2 separate regions of the Homo sapiens genome follow, and region 2 is linked to region 1. Evidence: fine-mapped expression QTL. Tissue or cell type: aorta. Region 1 holds a variant in brackets; the other region holds the start of a gene. All regions are shown on one strand. Distances are between the middles of the regions.

Region 1 (8,504 bases):
GGCTATTTTCATTCATCATTAAGTGATTGATGGATCATAGTTGCTAAGAGAAGACACGGAAATGAAGGAAATCAACCCATTCCTTCATTGATTCATTATGTTTAGAGAGCTACCATGTATGAGGTATTTTCCAGGACTTTATGATACCTTAAGCTTACATTCTCGTGAAAGAGGCAGACAATAAATAGTATAAATAACAAAAACATACTATGGGATACGTTTTAATAATAAGAAGTGCTAAGGAGAAAAAAAATAGCAGAGAAATGTCAGGGTAAACATGTATTGAAATGTTAGATGGGCTGTCCAGGAAGGGGCAGATAACAAAGGTGACCTTTGAGTAGATGCCAGAAGGAAGTTAGGAAGTTATGCAGGGGAGCCTTGGAAATGTGGGGGAATTGCACTGTAGGCAGAAAGTACAGCAGATGCAAAGGCCCTGAGGCGGAGAATGCCTGGGGGATTGAGGAAGAACTAGGAGACCAGTGGGGCCGAGTGACTGAGTGAGGGTGAGAGTAGCACAAAATGCGTACAACAAAGTATGTTATGGAGAAGGCTGTAGGTTAGAACAGGAACTTTAACTCCTAATTAGGTGGTTTTCAGTAGACGAGTGACACAAACATAATGTTATACTTGGACCTTTGCTGTGTTGAGACCACTGGGTGTGGGAGATGGGTGGATGAGGGATTGGGAAATCAGTGAGGAGCTTACCACCGTAACCCAGGCAGAAGATCATGGTGGCCTGTGCCAGAACGAGGCCTTCCTCTCTTTCTCCCTCCTTCCTTTCATCTTCACAGATTATTCTATATTAGTCCATTCTGACACTGCTAATAAAGACATGCCCAAGACTGAGTAATTTATGGAAGAAAGAGGTTTCATTGACTCACAGTTCAGCATGGCTGGGGAGGTCTCAGGAAAGGTAGAATTATGGTGGAAGGGGAAGCAAACACGTCCATCTTCACTTGGTGGCAGGAGGAAGAATGAGAGCTGAGTGAAGCGGGAAGCCCCTTATAAAACCATCAGATCTCGTGAGAACTCACTATCATGACAACAGCATGGGGGAAACTACTGCCATTATTCAATTCCACCCCCACCGGGTCCTTTCTACCCCATGTGGGGATTATGGAAAGTATAATTCAAGATGAAATATGGGTGAAGACACAGCCAAACCAGATCATAGTCCATGTCTACTTCATTCAAGAGAATGAATGACTGAATGACACTTAATTGGGTCTTTTGATATTAGCATCCAGTATTTTGTCATCTTCTGAGAGGGGCTACTTCTGGAGACAGTGACACAGAAAACCAGTGCTCTTGATTTAAGCAGAGTGGATCAGTAAGAGGTGTCTCTTTCATTTGTTTAGATTATGATATTTATTCAAAGAGAGGAGCAGTGAACTGTGGTTGAGTTTGTTATTTTAATGAAATTACACTTGCAACTATTGTAGGTGTCTTTCTATGTAATGGATGCTTTACATTCTCTCACTTTTTTTCCTCCAGACAATTCTAGACAGCAGGCATCATGATTCCCATTTTATAGATCATCAAATTGAGGATCAGAGATACCCTGCAAAGTCTCATATGGCTGAGTAGCAGTACTCTTTACATCTGAACCCAGGACCACTCTGACTCCAAAGCCAATATTCTCTCTGCATATTTAATAGCTGTTCTTTTTAAAAAATTGTATCTATTAGTGCATATTTGATGGTGGATAATGTATATTTAATAAACCCACTGAGTCATGTAGCTGTACAAGCATTTAGGAGATTATGCCATCTAGGAAATTAAATATTATCAAGTGTTGTCACACTTGAGCATGAACAAATACAGACTGCTGGGCTCTATCCCCAAAGATTCTGATTAGAATGGCTCAGGCCGGGTGCAGTGGCTCACGCCTGTAATCTCAGCACTTTGGGAGGCCAAGGCAGGTGGATCACCTGAGGTCGGGAGTTCTTGACCAGCCTGGCCAACATGGTGAAACCCTGTCTCTACTAAAAATACAAAAAATTAGCTGGGCATGGCGGCACACGCCTGTAATCCCAGCTACTCAGGAGGCTGAGGCAGGAGAATCACTTCAACCCAGGAGGTGGAGGTTGCAGTGAGCTGAGATCACACCATTGCACTCCAGGCTGGGCAACAAGAGCAAAACTCTGTCTCAAAAAAAAAAAAAAAAAAAAAAAAAAACAAGAATGGCTCAGGTAGGGGCCAAAAATCTGCATTTCTAACAAGCTCCTAAGGCTGCTCATGCTGCTGATCCTGGCACAGCACTTTGAGAATCCTTGGTCCACGCCAATCCCATCATTTTTGCAAGAACAAATTGGAGGTCAGAGAGGTTAACACTATTTTCAATGATCAGTTAATACCCCTCCCACCTGCATTAACTGTAAGAGAAAGCTTGAATGACAGAGATGCACGACTGTCAGAAATGGAAATGTAGGGTTTTTTTGGCCCCTTTGCTTGTTTTAATTCAAGAGTATAAACCATAGGTAATGTTGTGCTCTCACTTTCTCCTGATTTATCTCCTTTTGAGCACTTAATGAAGAGGAACCCCACTCATTCACACACACACATTTTATTTCTCCTGCCCTTTTTCTTTCCTTTCCACTTTGAAATTTCTGTTGCACTTTGTAGTTGTCCAGAATATTTTCAGAAATACCTCCTTGTGGGTGAATCTGCTGCAAACAGGGCTGATGAAGTCCCTAATGGTTGTTACCCAGAGCCCTACTGAATCAAAAGAAATACTTATTTTTTCTAAAAAAGGAATCAGTGGTGGGTTTGTGAACCTATGATTAGAAACATCCTGCGGGGACATCTACTTGTTCATATTTAATGTCATTTACTAGTAGTGGAGCTTACGTGCAGTTGGTTGTAGCAAACAGCTCTTTGGTTCTCCCCATTCTTTAAGGCGAAACTTAAATGTAATTTCTTAGCATTTTGTGGCTGAAGCTCAAACCAGATGGCTCCTTCTTTTCTTTCCAGAGCACTTAGTTCACACTTCTAATGCGTAGAACATGCAACATCGTCGCCTAATTTTAAATGGCTTACTCACTGGCCAGAGTCATGATAAATAAAGATGGTGTGGAACGTTTCTTCTGTTTCATGCTCATGGAACACAGCACAATCTTTGGGGCTCAGTTTACTGAGTATGAGACAGCAGGACAAAGTAGTAAGGGGTGTGAGCTTCGAAGCCAAGCAGGTTGTTTGGAGACTAGGTTTTTCTACATCTACCACACAGCTTCACTGTAGGCTCAGTTTCTCCCTCTATTAAGTGGAGAAATAATAGTAATATCACACAGAGTTGTAAAAAGCTCTTAAAATGATGACGTCATGCTTGCAAAGTCTTAGCACACTGTTCAGCTCATGGAAAGGGCTGAATAAATATTAAATATAAACCAGACCTCATGAGCACATTCAATCCCCAGGGAATTAGTCTGAAAGAAGGTGAGCCCTCAACTTCTACAAGTAGTGCAAATCGAAAGCCCTTCCTCTCACATATGGTAATCCCCAGGGGCTTGTACTGTCATGACCCATGTTGCTTCTGGGTCCTGTGCTTGAAAGGCTGTCTCTTTCCCCATCTGAGTCAACCGGGCGGTAAAACGTGGCTCCTGTACCAGGTTGCACAAGAAACATGCATACACACATATCACTGAGCAAGGTGAATGCCACTGAGGGTTCGGGGACCAGGGGACACCTGTGTGATCTTCTACCACCTTTCCGGCCCTTTCCTTTCTTCCCTTCTTCTTCTACTCCCAGTTAAGCTTTCATTTTCCAATGCTCTTCAGCAATCGCTATTTTACTCTCCCAAACTTCTACAGCCAAACCCAGCAAGTGTTCAGTTCAGCAGAACAAAGGGTCTTGCTCTTTGCTGGATCTACCTTTCTTTCTTAGAGGGGAGTTGGGGTTGAACAACTGTTTCGTTCATTACAGCTATTATTAATATTTTCAAAGTTATTATTAATGAAAGAGTGAGTAACGCTGCCTTATTCTCCTTTTATTTCTCACCCACTCTTTTTGTGTTCAGATCACTAGATTTTAATTTTACGCCCTTTCCCCAGCCCAGGACTAGGTCTGTGTTACCCAGGACCATTTGAAAGTTGAAAGAGGAACTCATTGGTGATACACTGGCTTAAAAAACTTTAGGAATTCAGAAAACTATCCAAGAATAACTTATAAAATTACAGATGAAATATGTGTTATAGTTTAAAC[A/G]CAATATTTTTCTGAGTTCTTTGGATTTTTAAGTACTTAAAATACACAGTGACTATCTCTTTTCAATTTTCCAAATATAGCATCTAAATTTAGAGAGATGTTAAAACAATTTGGGGGTTGTTTGGTTTCTTTCCTTTTTTTTTTTTTTTTTTTGGCCCCTTTGCTCAAAGAAATAGTGCTTTGCTTTCTTCTAATGAAGTAAGCCCTGGTCCAAGGAAAATATAAAATAAAATCGCTATTTTCCTACCACCTTTGGGCTATGTAATTCCCATTTCATTTTCCAAGAGGCTAAATTTTCAAATGGTTTCACTTACACAGTGCAGAAAAATTAGACATCTTCGTCATTTGGGGGAAAATAATGACAGACTCTCTACAAGAAAAAACTATATATATATGACAAATCATATTAAAAGATAACGGATCACTTTAAGTATGGGAAACAGACCTTGAAGACAAACAGTTTTGCACCCGAACTTGATCTAAGCATGATTCCCAGCTAATTGTTTGGTTCTAAATTAAATTATTCCTTTTGATACCGAAATTATAGATACAGTTCCATTTGGCACTTCAGGGTATATTTATTTTCTCTGTAAGTGCTTGTCCATATATTTAAAGACTACAGATAATGGATTTTTAAGTGTATTTAAAAAGTTAAGCCTCTTGAGAATTTATTTTAAATGGAAAATATCTCCCAGCAGATTGTAATTTAAAAAATTAAAGGCAATACAATACACATGCATAGAGATAACATTCAGGTGTTTGTGAATCATTTTCCCCACTCTGCTGATTGTCTTTGTGGTTAATCATGGAACTGATGGTGCAGAATACACTGTGGATGAGTTTACTTGCCTGAGCACTTAGGTGGCTTAGAGCAGATCTCTTGCAAAATGCGAGAAAAAATATGACCTTGGCCTACAGCAGTGATCAACAAACTTATTTTGAAAAGGATTAGAAAGTAAATATTTAAGGCTTATGAGCGAGATATTCTGTTGCAACTATCCAACTCTGCTGTTGCAGTTCAAAAGCAGCCATATACATGTAGGTGAATAGTGTGGCTGTATTCCAATAAAACTTTATTTACAAAAACAGTAGTGGGCCGGATTTGACATGCAGGTTGTAGATTCCAGACTCCTGGTTTGGAGGCCTGACTTCACAACTTTGTGTCATCCTATAGGAGTATGAGTTCAGCTCCTGGATTCAGCATCTCAGTTAGGCCCACTCTAGTGAGTTAGCAGAGCAGCCTTCTTTACGCAGCTGCCATAAACAAACCAAGCAAGCCATGAAGCCCACGCTTCAGTGTCATAATCACATTTCCCTTCCACATGATCTGTACACACCTCAAACCCCAATCCTCACAAGTGGGATTAAGAGCCTCAGGAAGAGCTCCAAATAAATCCTCTTCTCCTGTCCATCTCACCACAGAAAAGCAGATGAACAGAAAATCAGAAAGTCAGTAACTTGTCTATTCCTCAGAGTTAGATGTCAGTGTGATACCTGACATAGAGACAATCTGACAGATCACAAAAGTCTGATTCATTTATAAAATATCTGGTGAGTGGCTACTGTTTGTCAAGCTCTGTGCTAGTGCGAGAGATACAAGGGTTGCTGGGATGGCCCGGTCTCTGCAAGAATGGAGGTTTTATTCTAGTGAGAGAGACACAACATAGGGAGGAATCCAAAAGACAGAAGGAGGGTTTGCCCTGAGTTTCCTGTTGGAAATTGGGACTCTGGTAAGCAGCTGTGTGATAACAGAAAGAAACATCAGCCTCATCTGTATAAGCACGTCTTCATTCAATAAAACACATATAACAGGCCTTTGCTAAACACTCGAGGTAAAATGGCAAACAAGACACTTTCTTCCCTCAAGAAGTTCACAGTCTGATAAGGAAAAAAGCAAAAAGAACAAGTAATGACAAGTTGAACTCCTGAATATTCTGACAGATCAGGCAATTCACACACACAAAAAAAGGAAATAGAATTGCCGATATTATAAAACAATCTCTAACCTTCCCATTCATTGAAAAATTTTCAAACTAATACTACACTCTCTTCCAACCATCAGATTGGCCAACAAAAATAAACATTGTATTATCAACCGTTAGCGTGAGGAGACAACTCTTAGAGCCCAAATCGATAAAAAAAAAAAAAAAAAAAAAAAACTTAGCATCTAACTAAATTTTAACTGACGTTTCATTTGAATCAGCACTTTCAGAATGGCTCTGAACTACTTAAATATATGTATAAAAGCCAGGTATAAAGGTATTTGTGGCCGACCATGGTGGCTTATGCCTGTAATCTCAGCACTTTGGGAGGCCAAGACGGATAGATCACTTGAGGTCAGGAGTTGAAGACCAGCCTGGCCAACATGGTGAAACCCTGTCTCTACTAAAAATAAAAAATTAGCCGAGTGGTGGCCCATGCCTGTAATTCTAGCTACTTGGGAGGCTGAGGCAGGAGAATTGCTTGAACCTGGGAGGCAGAGGTTGCAGTGAGCTGAGATTGCACCACTGCACTCCAGCTTGGGCAACAGAGGGAGACTCCATCTAAAAAAAAAAAAAAATATATATATATATATATATATATATATATATGTATATATATATATTTGTATATATATATGTATATATATTTGTATATATATATTTGTATATATATTTGTATATATATATTTGTATATATATATGTATATATATATGTTTGTGTATATATATATGTATATTTACATTTACTACTACACAGTTGGTAATTAATGAAACGGAAAACCTCAGTGTTCAGCAATAGGGAACTGCTTTAATGAGAGCAGATAGATCCATACTAAGAGATAATATGCAGTCATAAAAAAGCAATCTATATAAACTGATGTAAAAAGTATTTAATAGCTATTAAGAGAAAACCTACCTACTGAACTGTTTAAGTGTATATATAGCTTGCAAATTTGGTAGAATAATTTAATAATCAAAATGTGTGGCTAATCGGGGAAGTCAGGGCTTGTTGAGATAGTAACAGGCTGCATCTCCTATTTCACTTCAGTTGATTCCATTTTTAATTATTTTTGTATTTTAAAATGACTATTAAATAATATGAGTTAAAGGATGTATACCTATTTAAAGACTATCCACTGAGAAATCTCACCCTTAATTCTAAAGGGCGCTGCAATTCAGTGATCAATAGAATGACCAAATCTCCACCCTCAAAGTTCCTTGGTTATTTTGAAAACCGTACTGCTAAAAAGAGAAAAAAAAAAGTGTCATTCTTTTCTGCCTGATATCTTCCCAGCATATGTAAAGTAGTATTCCTGGTGATAGTATCTGAAAATCAACATAATCCAAAGGTCCTCACTTTGTAATGTTTGCAGTAAGATTCCAGCATCTTAGCATTTAACTGTTTTCAGATTACATCCATTTAAACATCTGTGATTCATTATCGTAAATATCACAGTTGTGGGGACCATATGCTTCAGCTTGCAGCATATATGTGTGTGTGTGTGTGTATGTATATATATATATATATATATATATATATATATATATATATATATAAAGAAAAAGCACGAGCAATAAATCTCAGGAACCTTAGACTTGCCGTGGGTATGTGCAAAAAGAACATTTCCAAACACATGGGGCTGTCTATAATCACAGTAATGTACTTGAGATCCCATGTAAGAATTATTCAATTGCAAAAGTTGCCACTTGTGATGGAAAGCTATGATTTACATTTGGCTTGTGCACTTCCCATGATAATTCAAATAGGGTGGAAAGCAGCACAAAAGCCTTCTGCTGCATTGGCTTTTACTTCTTAAGGAAATATGTGAGCGCTATTGTTGTCGAGTGGAGAAATCACAGAAAAATGAGATACCTTTAACAAGTGGCAAGGCACTCTTGGCAGGCATCCTTCATTCCCATGAGACTGGAGCTAGAGATGATGCCATATGGCCTAAGGGATGTAATAAAAATCACTTGGCCACTGGAGGATGAATAGGCATGGCCTACAGGGCTGATTATTTTCTTGCTTACACCAGAAAACCCACGTATGCACACAAGAATTAATTGTGCTTCATGTATTGTAAGCCAAATCATTGTCTTTTAATTTCCTGATAAAGTCTTGTCAACTAGACAGAACCAATCTGTAATCACAGCTGATGAGTATCTCACACACTGCAATTAGGGAGGAGGTAAATGAATTAATTGGTTACAACCAAAAGGAGTCTGCTAATATTTTTTGATTGCCAACTCTCTTCTAGGGCTAGCACCAAGCCTAGCCAGAGATATGGAGATAAAACTGTAGGAAGCTCTTGCCCTCAAGGA
Region 2 (8,246 bases), 380 kb before region 1:
CTCTGTTATCCAGGTCCCCAGACACGCCTAATCACTGGGTTGTTGCATAAGGGCTCCTAGCTGGATTAATCCCGCTCTATACAAATGCCTCATCATAGCAGCACATTGAAAGCATAACAAAATTTGAATACATTATCTCTGCCGGACTATATGCCAGTCACTCCCTCCCCCCAGCACACACACACCCATGTGCTTATATGCATACACACAGGAACATGCACGCACTCACACAGCCACATCCACCCACTGTGGAATGCCTTCATCAACATCAGCCAAGGACAGGAAACAAACTCAACCCTTGGCACCCACAGGAGGCAGCTACTGGCTGTTGGATTATTCCCTCCGTGCCAAAGCTAGGCTGATGCGTCTGGAAAAGGGGTGTGAACCTCGAATGTGTCTAAAGGCAGACACAGCTTCTTGAGGAGCCCACAGATGCTACAGCAGCTGGGGCTTGGTCGGGGGATGATACGGGGTAGGCGGTGGAGTGGGGATACGTAGGGCTCAACTTTAGTATTTATTTGCCACATCAATCAATTAATCAGCCAAAAAACCCTTATTAGGGAACTGAATAAAAAGCAAAGCAAAACGAAGAATGGATTTCTTCTTCAGAAGCCTTTTATCATTGGAATGAAATAATTTTTCTTCTGTCTTTGTTGGACAAAATATGATCTCTTGTTCTTTGTTGAAGTGCACGTTCTCTGAAAGTCGAGAGGAATAGATGATAGAGGGGAAGAGAAACATCAATATTTACAACAGTCCTGGGAGTGTTATCATGTTATCATTCGCATTTTATTGATGACATACTGAGTCTTAGGGTACCAAACTGACTTGCCTCATATATGTGGAATCTGAAGATCTCAGTTCAGGTCTAATCTTTCTGACAAATCTTTTTCCACCTTAGTAGGCTTGGCATGTTTTGAACCTCGTGGGATTACAGAAGTGAGCCTCAATGCCTAGGGAGACTCCAGAAGACAACTCCTCTCATTCCTTAAAAGCCAATCTGTGGGGATTGAGGTGAGGAAGGAGTGAAGACTGGCCCTTTGGGCACACCCACCTGGAATCAGGCAAGGTTTACTGGAGCCACTCTGCCTGCCAGCAGAACAGCCCAGGAAAAAAGCCTGGGACCTTTGCAAATGCCTGAGCAGGACTTTGCAGGGGACAGAGTCAGCAGGATTTTCACCAAACGACATCCATCTTAATTGGTAGCATCAGACTCATGAGGTCTTCTATGGCCTGGGCATCACAGACTCTCATTACTGGTCGTACTGCCAATGGCCTCCTTTTATATATAGTTGATGAATTTGAGGACAAACCAGAGAATTGCCCTTGGCCAAACCAAGCTGTCTCACCCAAGATTTTTCCCCTCCTTGGGGAAATACTGGGGCAAAAAGCACGTCCAGGGAAACCAATCTGCCTGACACTGGCAATTAAATGCTCCAGGCTTGAAGGGACATGGCACTTTTGCACATGGCTCATTGGCTAGATGTACACACACTGCCCCACCCCAGCAACAAGGGGGCCAGTAAATGCAATCCCACCATGATCCCAAAAGGGGAAAAATTGGAAATATTTGGTCATCAGCACTAAGGACAAGGGAATGGGGAGACCACAGAAGGCCAGCAGAACTGTAAAACTGACAGCACCGAACTGTCCTTAGAACACAGCCTTGAAAACTCCCTCTTCTGAGGGACTGCTTCCCTTAACTGAGCTGCTGCAGATGGAAACCTAGCTAGATCCTCATCTTCTGCAGTCTAGTCCCTCACTGTGGTTTATCACCTCCCAAGCTGTCCTCTGCTCTCTTTCCCTATCTTTGTGTTGCTAAGCCATGGACTCAGTTTAGCTGGCCCTGAATTACAAGATGGCACCTTCCCTGGAGTGGAGAAAAGTCCGGATATTTCAGGATGCCTTGATTTGAAGCCTGTTTGACTCCAAAGTTCTCTGGTTTACTCCCACCTGTGGGAAACGTGAGGCTAGATCTCCACACACATGGATTCCAAAGTGTCATGATCTGTGACGTCATCTGTCGGACCGTATTGATCAGAGGCTCAGGGACAGATGACCCTATTTAGGCAAGGAAATGAGTGGGTGAAGCAGCAAGATTCACCTTTCCCAGTTTCATCTGGGGGTTGTTTTGCCAACATTGCCATCTGTTGGGCCAGTGCTGGCTACAGCAGCCAAGCTTCAGACATCACTGCATCTTTATCAATGACCTTGGGACCACAGGAGGTGACCTTCTGACCAAACAGCAGCCAATGAAGGAATCTTAAAAGGCACATCACTTTATATTTATTCAGTGGTTATGTCATCACTTAATCCTCACCACAACCTTGTGAGTTCAGTAGAATTTGTGTTTTCATTTTATCTGTGAACAAATGGAGGCAGAGAGTTTGAGTAATTTACAAGTAAGTGGCAGATCCGGGGGCTGTGCCTAGACAATGTGGCTCCAGACTCCTTGCCCCTCCCTGCCTTCTGCTGCATCTTGATTGAGTCTAGCCATCTATTTCTTTAACACACACTAATTGCTGTCTCCATGTTCCAGGCCCTGTGCCAGATGCTAGAAATACATCCCCATCCACTGGATCTTGGCATGGTCCATTGCTCAGTGTCCTGCTATGTTACGTGTTACATAATGCATTTATTCCGGTATTTAGCCCATGGAAAATAATGCTGAAAGACATTGTATGCATGTTTCTACAACAAAACTATGTAACTTATGTTTCTTTTATTGCTTTGGCTATCAGGAAGCTCTTATCCAAATCAGAGCAAATACATTAGAATTTGGGCTTGTCATTTCAGTTTGCTGAACTTTTCCTTCTGGCCCAGATTTTCTATTTTGGTTCATAAATTCTATTGCACAAATGTCCTTTATTGTAAAACACCTTAAATTCTTTCTAAGGGAAGGCTGCATGGAAATGATACAGTAAGGTCTTCCCTGCATTTTCTTAGATTCCTATTAGGGAAGGCAGACCTAGATGTCCCTCTTACCCTCAGTCCCAAAGCCCCCCATTTATAAAATCCCTTAAGCAGTGACTACTGCTGTTCTGAGTACCTGGAGGTAGTTCAGAGCTTCTGAAAGGTAACATCCATATACAAAAAGAAGTTCCTTCCGATCCAGATCCCAGCTTTGGTGCCAGATGCACATTTGAGGAGTAGGTGGCTAGTCAGACTCTCACCTGAGCAGTTAATAAAATCTATTGCCCCTTAATGGAATTTTTTCTGCAAGCTCGAATTGATCTGTCATCTTTGTGATTTGTGAGATGGCAGGGAAGCACCAAACACCATCATGACTTGGGCCACAGTGGGGGGAAAAAAGGAAAAAAGAAAAAAAAAATCCACTGCCAAGCCTTGCCAGGCGTAGAAAGGGCTGGAACTGCTGGGGCCATTTTATCTGATTTATTGGAAATAGAGTGGATCTTATTAACATTTTAATAAAGAGAATCTTTTTGCACTAGGCTGGAAGTGGCCGCCAGTCCCCCGTGCAATTCCATTCTCTGGAAAAGTGGAATCAGCTGGCATTGCCCAGCGTGATTTGTGAGGCTGAGCCCCAACAGTCCAAAGAAGCAAATGGGATGCCACCTCCGCGGGGCTCGCTCCTCGCGAGGTGCTCACCCCGTATCTGCCATGCAAAACGAGGGAGCGTTAGGAAGGAATCCGTCTTGTAAAGCCATTGGTCCTGGTCATCAGCCTCTACCCAATGCTTTCGTGATGCTGCTGCTGATCTATTTGGGAAGTTGGCTGGCTGGCGAGGCAGAGCCTCTCCTCAAAGCCTGGCTCCCACGGAAAATATGCTCAGTGCAGCCGCGTGCATGAATGAAAACGCCGCCGGGCGCTTCTAGTCGGACAAAATGCAGCCGAGAACTCCGCTCGTTCTGTGCGTTCTCCTGTCCCAGGTAGGGAAGAGGGGCTGCCGGGCGCGCTCTGCGCCCCGTTTCTGCATTCGGATCGCCCGGCACGGGCAGGGTGAGGGGGCTTTCGGGGGGTCGGGGCCTCCGGTCGCGGCGGCGAAGACAGATCGGGGCTCGGTAGGGAGGTCATTCCGAGCCCAGAGATCCTAGGCACCCCCCACACACAGGCTCCCACTCTGGCGTGCGTGTGTGTGTGTGTGTGTGTGTGTGTGTGTGTGTGTGTGTGTGTACGTTCGTTAACGGGAGGAGGAGAGAGCTCCCAGTCCTTTTTTGCTAGCAGGGGCGACATTCTCGCCCACATCAAGTGGGGTAACTTTGGTTCCCTCCTCCGGAGGCTCGGTGCATTGGAGAAAGACTCAGTTAGAGGCGACTCCAACGAGCCGCGGTTTTCCCCAGCCCAACGCCCAGCGGCCGAAGCGCTGCTCGGGTCCGGATTGCGGGATGCGGGGCTGGAGAGGCCGAGCAGGCACCACCGACTTCCCAGGGCGCCCGGGCCCCCTGGTACAGCCCGGCTGCCCGCTGGAAGGCGCCTCGGGGCAGCAGAGAGCCTCAGCCCGGCTGCTGCTGTCGCTCAAAGGCGCCGGCGCCGGCCGCACCCGCATCGGGGTCCTTTTGCTCCCAGACCCCGGGCCCGAAAGGGCCGGAGCGTGTCCCCCGCCAGGGCGCAGGCCCCAGCCCCCCGCACCCCTATTGTCCAGCCAGCTGGAGCTCCGGCCAGATCCCGGGCTGCCGCCTCTGCTGCCTTCCCTGAGCGGGAGCGGAGCGCAGAGAAAAGTTCAAGCCTTGCCCACCCGGGCTGCAGCTGCTTGTTAACCCTCAGAGCGCCACGGCGCGAGGGAAGGGCACGCCAACCAGGAGAGGGGGCGAGGGAGATGCGGTCCGCCTGCAGTCACCTCTGCACCTCAGAGATTTCGGGAAGTTTGAGTGCAGGAAAGCAGCGCTCCGAGGCCAGGCCTGGGGTGCTGGCCGCTGCGGGGGGCACGCCCTGCGCTGCTCAGGGGCCTGTGGTTTCGGAGAGCACCCCGATCCAGTCCCCCATCGCCTCTCTGGCAGGCGTTGGGACTTGGAGTGAGCTGGCAGCCTGCAAGTGGGTGGATAAGAGCCAGGGCAGGGCAGGGCCGGGCAGAGTAAGGAGGGAAAGAGACAGGGAGTGCCTCAGGGTGCTAGGAATGAGTGTTGAGTTCCTGGCCGGGGTAGAGGCTCAGGTGAGAGTTTGCGGGTGAAAGGCAGGGGAAGGGAGTTGGGTTCCCAGGTAGGGACTGTCTGGGATGGGGAGACTGGTGCAGACTTCTAAGGGAGACCACTGTTAGAGCAATGTTGGGTTTAGACTTTGGAAATGGGCTAACATCTCAGAAATGCAGTGATGGGTGATAGTACCAGGGGAGATTCAAGTGCCCGGCTGCTGAGCCCGCTCCCAAGCTCCTGACTTCTTTCTTGGATATACAGTCCCGATTAAGGACTGCCCAGTTATAGCTCCTTTTCTACCAGGCTTTTCTGGTTGATTATCTTGGGGTCCCTACAGCCTTGAGTCTTGCCATGGATCCCAAGCCTGGCTGTGAACCAGTTTTCCAGATGTCCTGTACCCTAGAGACCCCAAGGCTGTATGTGTGTACATATACCCCAATTTAGCAAGGCGGTTTGGAGCATGCCTCAGACAGAAAGGATTCAGACAGATCCTTCCTGCCATCTGCTAGTGGTACCAACCCGGGCAAGTTGTTTAACCTCTTTGAGCTTCCAAGTTCTCCATTGTAAAATAATCTGCTGCCTTCCTAGGACTGCTGAGTGGATAGGATTGCATTCAACAGGATGTCCTATGCAATGCATGCCAGTCTGGGAGCTGTCGGTGTCTGAGAGCACTTACCATTGCCTTGTCCAGGACTTCACAGTCCTCTTTCTTTCTTGGCAGGTTTCAACCTCAGTTCATATTCCAGGGCTTGCCCAAAGTTATGCCTCCTTTAAAGCAAGACAGACCACGTGACAGGGCCCCAGGATCGATTTTTATGCACTAAGGGCTCTGCGCACGGTTCTTTTTGCAAATGAACTGGTGTGTCTCCTCACCCAGGGCCAGGCTGGCACAGGTGGGTTCTGAAGGCTCACTCTATTTATTTAGATGAAGGAAGCAGAGATTTTGCTGTGAATTGAAATGATTGCCCTGAGAGGCTTATTTCTATTTTCAATTGTTATGCATATCAGAGCAAATGTCCACATTAGGATAGTAATTGATATCCTGGTAGCAATAGTACCTCACAGAGAAATCATTTTGATGCAATCCAGTTAACCAGCAAGAAGTTCACGTGCAGAACTCTGTGTGCCATAGAAAAAAGTGGGGAAAGTCTTCGAGGCCTTGAGTCGACGAGCAAAAACACAACTTTCCTGAGGCAGAGAGAAAACAGAAGGGAAAAACAATGTAATAAAACAAATTAGTCACTCGGCCCTGGTGGTGTTCAGGCAAGCCTGTATGTTTTTTTCCACCACAGTTGTAAAGCATCGGGTCTGGCTTTGGAAGCCATCAATCTCTGTAAGCTTATTGGCTTGGTTGTTGTTTTAGGCATTTTGGTAGGAGGTGAGGAATTCTAAGCAACAATGACTGGAAGCTGGCACCGTTGAACAGTCACCTCTCCTATCCCCTGGGGTGTTTTGGGAAAGTCTGTCCCAGAAGTGGCTTCTGGAATTTGCCTATGATAAGTAATGACTGTGAAACAAATCAAGAAAGAAATGAGCAAGAAATTCCATGGTAAATGTGATTCCCCTCCCTATTTGGGTAGCACTTACAACTAACCAAAAGTTCTAACAATGAGTGAGTAATCCCCCAAGAATTAGGAATTTAGGGAGGGGTTCAGGCTTGGAGGACAGTCGCTTGGGAGTGACTGAAAATGTTCCATGGAATTCTGAGATTTCGCTATAAAGTGGGGAGTTCTCTCTAGGGGTCAGAGTCTTGATTTTCAGGATTTTCAATGAGAATCAGTGTCTTATAGTGCTCCTGCAAATTTGTGTGTTATGTTTTAAGAGCAGTGTTTATTTGCAGAACTTTTTGGATGAGGAAAAGGACACAGGGTTGAAGAGGGTGCTGCCCCCTCCCCCCCTAGGGTCAATACATGACAGCCTGTAAGATTTCCAGAGCACTAGGGAAATGGAATATGTAGTGAAAGGAGTCAGTGATAGAGTTCACCTGTCTGAATATTTTTTTTTAGCAAGTCCCAAAACAGGTTTAATAAACTGCAAAGCTGAGTATGTAATCTGGAATTTGTGTAATTCCACAGTCTATACTAAAAGCCCCAACAGTCATCTTAGCTGATCGCTCCTACTCTGCCTCCCTCCCTTCTCCCCTTTTCTATCTTTAGCCCTTGGGTTTTCCGTTAAGTAAAATCTGTTTACTTCCAGAAGTATCCTCTATGTGTTATAGTGAAATTGCCCAACAAACCAACATACTCAATAACTGCATTATCTAAAAGCATCAGCACTTGGATGTGTAAACTGAGCCTCAATCTGAAGTTCAATGTTTAGGTTAAAGTGTAGCTAGGTTCTTGAAAACATCCTTATTTCCTTCCAAAAATACAATTGCTTGGGGAGTCTAGTTAATTTATATTTAGTGGAATGTAGGAAAAGGACAAACTATGGATTTAATTTACACCTGAATGACAGTCATATCATCTACGTAGCCAACAGTGTTTCTGTGTGCGCGTCTGAGTGAGTGTGTACATCTCTGCATTTTGATCTTGTAATACCTGTTGAAAAATTTCTCCAGAAGAGGGCTCCATCCACAGCATTACAAAATTCTGAATCTACAGCTCATTTTAAAGAACTTCAATGCAGCAACTCCATCAAAACAAAACTATTCTCCTTATTCCACATTAATTGCCACAATCACCCCCAAATGAGAAATCCTGCCATTTTTCACTGTATTTATTTCTGTGTCTCTCTCTTTCTTGCTTTCCTTCTTTTGCTCTCTTGCTTTCTCGCTAGCTTTCTTCTTGCTTTCTTTCTTTTCCCCTATTGTAGTTGGTTCTGTTCTAATTCATTCTTTGACTCTGTATCCCCTCTGAGTATTGGAGCAGGGAAAATTTCAAAGATGTTTGTAGACGGTGCAATACGCAATGTGAGGAAGTTCTGAAATTTCCTGGCATTTGACTTTGGTTGGACTTGATTTCATTCTTTAGGTAGCCAAAAGGCAGGAACAGTTCTGCCTGTGGAAGGAGATAACCTTCCCCCTTACATAACCACCCAGAAGGGTGACTCCTGAGCTAGGTCCACTCACTTTCCATCACTCATTGAAAAGGAGAAGGAAATATCCCCCTGTCATCCAATTACAATAATCAGCTGGACAGAATCAAACCAAGTGAC

What was found. PIP is the estimated chance that this variant, and not a neighbour inherited with it, causes the effect.
Region 2: CDH13 starts here. The variant in region 1 is fine-mapped to the expression of CDH13 in aorta (GTEx, PIP above 0.99). The same link has a PIP of 0.9 or more in tibial artery.

The regions. Positions count from the first base shown.
Region 1 is chr16:83,007,985-83,016,488 of GRCh38, forward strand. The region is part of intron 2 of CDH13 (cadherin 13); the gene reads left to right. Among named protein-coding and RNA genes, the nearest start is that of MIR8058, 320 kb to the left of the region's middle. The variant A/G (reference allele first, on the strand shown) is at 4,201.
Region 2 is chr16:82,623,248-82,631,493 of GRCh38, forward strand. It overlaps CDH13 (cadherin 13), which reads left to right and starts at 3,722. Exons shown (of 14, transcript NM_001257.5): 1 at 3,722-3,890. The coding sequence starts at 3,846. RefSeq lists an enhancer at 5,807-7,006.